Linked DNA regions of Homo sapiens: region 2 is linked to region 1. Evidence: fine-mapped expression QTL. Tissue or cell type: lung. Region 1 holds a variant in brackets; the other region holds the start of a gene. All regions are shown on one strand. Distances are from middle to middle.

Region 1 (2,760 bases):
ACTACCACTAAATAAATGTTTTCTAATAACAAGAGCTAATACTTATGGGTGGCTTCCTGCATTGCAGATGTTATGCTAAACACTTTAAATGTTTTATTTAGTCTCAGAAGACAGATTTTGTTCCTTCTGAAGAGGCTAAATAAAATATTTAAAGTGTTGAGCATAGGCCGGGTGCGGTGGCTCATCCCTGTAATCCCAGCACTTTAGGAGGCCGAGGTGGGCGGATCACCTGAGGTCAGGCATTTGAGACCAGCCTGGCCAACATGGTGAAATCCCGTCTCTACTAAAAATACCAAAATTAGCTGGGCATGGTGGCGTGTGCCTGTAGTCCCAGCTGCTTGGGAGGCTGAGGTGGGAGAATCACTTGAACCTGGGAAGTGGAGGTTACAGTGAGCCGAGATCACACCACTGCCCCTTAGCCTGGGCAACAGAGTGAGACTCTGTCTCACAGATGCACACAAAAAAAGTGTTGAGCATAACATCTGCAATGCAGGAACTCCATGAGGTAAGAATTATTGTTACTATTCTAATGTGAAGAAACAGAAGCCAAGGGAGTTCAATTCCTGAGACAAGGATTAAGGGCAGCATTTGAGGGTTTACTCCAGGCCAGTGTTCTAGCTTTACCTATATTCATTCATTTAATTCTCATAGTGACCCTGTGAAGTACACAGGTTCTGTGATCCCTGTTTTATAGATGGGGAACATGAGGCATGAGGGGTAACTCATTTGTTCAAGATCACTTAGCTAGCATGGGACAGAGCTGGGCTTAAATCCAGACAGGCTGGACTCAGAGAGCGAGAACAGGCTCTCCCACCACACCATACTGCCACATTTAAGGAATGGAGACACCAGGGATGGAATTGGACGCTGTCTCATTCCAAAGCTACCTTAACATCTGGCCAAGAGGTATGACTAACATAGGAGCTAGCTGTAATGGCACATTCCTGTGAATTAGTAAAAAGATGTGTTGACTCAGCAACCAAGGGTAAGACTGTCAATTCCGTGGTTTAAGAGCTGAGTTGGAAACCACATCAGAGCTCGTCTACATGAATGACTACCAAGAAACTGACGATCAATTTAAACTTTGAGAAATGTGATGAAGAGCAGAATTGACAGCCTCATAGTAGTCAATTTTTGGAGGAAGTTAGACTAGCTTAAAATAAGAGCACGTAATCAAAAACCATTAAGTAAACACGGGCTCTTTATTTTTAAATTCGGATGGCGAGAGATAGTTGCTACATGCCGTTAAAGGGAAAACTAGTCTTTGGGGTGCAGGTGACAACTGTGATCAAAGCAGTATCACCCCAAGAGGCAACATTATCCTGAAGTAACATAACTTTGTACCGAAGGCCAGCTTCTGGCTGTGGGGTACTAGCTCCCCGTCCCTAGCGTTCACCTTAACCCTTGGGAAGGAAAGTACTATTAAAATTAAGTAATATACAAATTCATCTCAACTACTGTCAATTAACATTCTAGTGT[C/T]CTTATTCAACAAATCAAAAGCAAGGCAACACCAGGAGATGGATTTTGTTTCCTTCTGAGCTTTTTAATGGTGATCAGCATTTTCTACCAAATAATTCCACTCACAAGTCGTTCTCCACAAAATCCGTCTCCTGTTCTTCTGTGTTTCCATTATAATGGAAGATTGTTGGATAAACCATTAGTTTTCATAAGATTTTTTTTCTTCAGTTAAGTATCACCATACTAAATAAGTATCACCACACAAAATAAGAGTTCCAACTGTCCCTGTGTGTAAGTTATAACTACTCCATATATATGCCTATAGGGTCTGTTGCACTCAACCTCAAGCAATTTCCAAGTTTCATTATTATTATCATTAGATTACTCTCTGTCCCTTATCAATTCAGTAAATTTAACTCAACAAGCATTTATCGAATGTCTAATGCAAATCTGCACATTTTCTAACCCATTTACTTCTCCTGTTTTGCATCCTACCACTCCCCTCTAGCCTGACTTGTTTTCAATTTTTAAATTTTTATTTATTTTTGAGATGGAGTCTTGCTCTGTCGCCCAGGCTGGAGTGCAGTGGCACCATCTCGGCTCATTGCAACCTCCGCCTCCTGGGTTCAAGCGATTCTCCCACCTCAGCCTCCCGAGTAGCTGGGATTACAGGCACCTGCCATCATGCCCGGCTAATTTTTGTATTTTTAGTAGAGATGGGGTTTCACCTTGTTGGCCAGGCTGGTCTGGAACTCCTGACCTCAGGTGATCCGCACACCTCGGCCTCTCAAAGTGCTGGGATTACAGGTGGGAGCCACTGCACCCGGCCACTCCCTCATCTTATTTGGGTTTTCTCCTCAGAAAACAGCATTCTTTGACCAGTGTCTAAACGAGCACCCTCCCCCCACCATTATTCTCCATCTTCTCTCCCTCCTTTGTTTTCCTTCATAGTACATACCACCACCTGGCATGCTATTTATTTGTGCTTTTGTTTACTGTCTGTCGTTTCCCCATGGAACATAAGCTCCATGAGAGGGGACACTGTTCACTGCTGCATCCCTGGCACCCCAGAGCACTCCTGAGAACACACAACAAGCCCTCCATAAATAATTGTGGAGTGAGTTTTATTGTCTTGTATGGCATATATAGATAAAGTGCCATCCCAACAGTTTTCCCAGCCTTGAGTGGAAGGAAGAGGTTACACAAATAACTAAGGCCACACAGCCGTACAGATTCTATAATAGGAGGGCAAAGTGCTACGGGAATAGAGAAAGTTTCCTGGAGGGATTGGCAGTGTAACTG
Region 2 (2,621 bases), 97 kb before region 1:
AATGAAAATCTATAAAATTTCATCATCTGTAAATGCTGATAGGAAAGCACATTTCTGGAGAAATAAATGAGAACAAATTCTGCGATAAGCTGCCACTTGTTTCGAATTTGTGTGAGATGCTACACTCATTTCATCTATGTTTCTTAAATTACTTGTAAAATTTTTTAAGATGACAGTAGTAGCTGAGTATTTTCACTTATTTCATCTTGAGATGTGTGCTGTTTCTTTGTAAATAGCAGAGATTCAGTAAAGTTAATGCCAGTGTTTAACTATTAGTAGGACAGCCAATGATCATCTCGGTGACTCGGGAAGTTGGTTGGCAGTGCCTGATGACAGTGCTTGACGATCATCAGAAAGCTGCTTGGGATGAACTTTTAGAGACGAGAAACTATAAAATCCTTGGCTTAAAAGAGGGTTTGTTTGTTTTTTTTCTTTATTTAAAAAAAGCCTATTTAAAAAGTACTCAAGATTAAAGATAAGATTAAATCTAGTTAAGTTTTTGATGGAACCTAATCCCCAAGCATTAGCTTTCTCATTTCTCTAACTAAATGGAAAGATAATGGCAAAATGAGAAACTACTTGACTGATGTGTATTTCTTTAACTCAACTTAGACTTAAACTGAATTAACATAAATCAAAAGGAAACGATCAATATACTTGGAAGTCTATGAACTCCCTAGTTCCCTAGTTTGTCATTTACTAAAAAATTTTTAGTAAACATTTTTGTTTCGTAGAACACATATCAGATGATTTTTTTAAACAAAAGGTGAAACAAATAAATCCATTAATAATCTATAATTAGAACAACCAGTGCTACATTCAACCAGTTCATTTAAAGTAAAAACTAAAAGTAATGATGTTTTAAATTTCATGCAATTTTTAAAATTGGAAAAATGTATATATTACCCAAAACAAGAGTACAGAGGTAACATGAAACAAGCAATTATCCTCTTCTCCTTTTACATTGTAGAGACAGAAAAAAAACTGTATCCATTACTACATCTAAAATGTGCAGTAAGGATCCTTTAATATTCTTTTCAAAGCTGGGACTATTGAGAGAACAAGACTCCAGACTCCTTCGAGCAGGAATCCCATTCTTATCTCTAACATTGAATTTAAGACTAGTAAAGGCTCTTTCAAGACTAACATAAGGGGAAAAAAAAAATCTTACCTGAGAGTTGAAAGGATATTTCCCTGGAGTCAAGGAGAGGAAGAGATAAGAGAGGATTTAAGAATCCTATGAAAAGCAAACAGCAGGAGGCCAGCTTATACATGATCGCCACAAGATAGACGGCTTCCTTCTTGGCTTCTGTTGTAGAGAACTTTCAACTGTCTCCTCATTCTGCCTGCTCACTGATTATATATATCATCCTATGACCTGACATCATCCTCTCCAAAAAAAAAAAAAAAATGAATTTATTGGCTATGGAGGCTAAAAGGCAATCACTTTGCATTGATGTAATTTTTCAAGGTAACAAGTCATAGACAATAAATTAACTGTCTTGTTGCCTAGTGTACAAAGTAGGTATTATATAAAGAACAGTGAGTTTATAAATCTGGCAAAAGAGGCAACTTACAGCAATAAATCATGAATTAAAGGAAGGCTTGGATATGAGTTGAAGTGGCCAAAGCAAAGAGACGTGGATTTATGAGTCCGAGCAGAAGTGACGCAGAGCATAAGATGAAATACGTTGGTTTCCATTTTTTAATCTTTCATGAGTGAGTAGATGAGTTGCCATGCTGTGTTTAGGGCTGCCATCCCTGAAGAATGACAATCTGTGGATTAAAACGTAAAACCAGCTATTTCCTTTAAAACAGTGAAAAGTTAAAATACATAGCAAACATTGCTCCAGGCTCAAGACAATTCTGTACATACACGTGGCCTCATGTGAAGCCGCAAGCACTTCAATCTTCAGAGAAAGGAAATAACTTCATAAAGTTGATTATTATTCAGCAAGGAGGGAGGAAGGACTTAACACCAGAAAACTCGCTGATAAACATTTCCAGAATGTGGCCTCTACTCCCAACTGTACTCTGCCCAAGCTGGTCCAAGCCCGGATGGGTGGAAAGGTCCCCGACAGGCGTCCTGAAGTCTGCCTTCGGGCCTGCCACAGGCTCAGCACAGCAGAGTGATGCCAGAAGCATCTGCATAAGTCAGATCATGGTAGTTCTTTGCTCAAAACTTTCTGTGGACCTAAACACAAAAGTTACAAAGATAGGCCAGGCACGGTGGCTCATGCCTGTAATTTCAGCACTTTGAGAGGCCGAGGCAGGAGGATCACTTGAGTTTAGGATTTCAAGACCAGCCTGGGCAACATAGAGAAACACTGTCTCGGCCGGGTGCAGTGGCTCACGCCTGTAATCCCAGCACTTTGGGAGGCTGAGGCGGATGGATCACGAGGTCAGGAGTTTGAGACCAGCCTGACCAACATGGTGAAACCCCGTCTCTACTAAAAATACAAAAATTAGCCAGGCATGGTGGCACGTGCCTGTAATCCCAGCTACTCAGGAGGCTGAGGCAGGAGAATTGCTTGAATCCAGGAGGCGGAGGGTGCAGTGAGCCAAGATTGCGCCACAGCAGTCCAGCCTGGGTGACAGAGCGAGACTCTGTCTAAAAAAAA

What was found. PIP is the estimated chance that this variant, and not a neighbour inherited with it, causes the effect.
Region 2: it holds the start of UTS2, and the variant in region 1 is fine-mapped to the expression of UTS2 in lung (TOPMed, PIP 0.92).

What each region holds. Positions count from the first base shown.
Region 1 is chr1:7,948,224-7,950,983 of GRCh38, forward strand. No RefSeq gene overlaps it. Among named protein-coding and RNA genes, the nearest start is that of TNFRSF9, 8.8 kb to the left of the region's middle. The variant C/T (reference allele first, on the strand shown) is at 1,480.
Region 2 is chr1:7,851,730-7,854,350 of GRCh38, forward strand. UTS2 (urotensin 2) reads right to left here and starts at 1,336. Exons shown (of 4, transcript NM_006786.4): 1 at 1,172-1,336. The coding sequence starts at 1,274. RefSeq lists an enhancer at 856-1,544.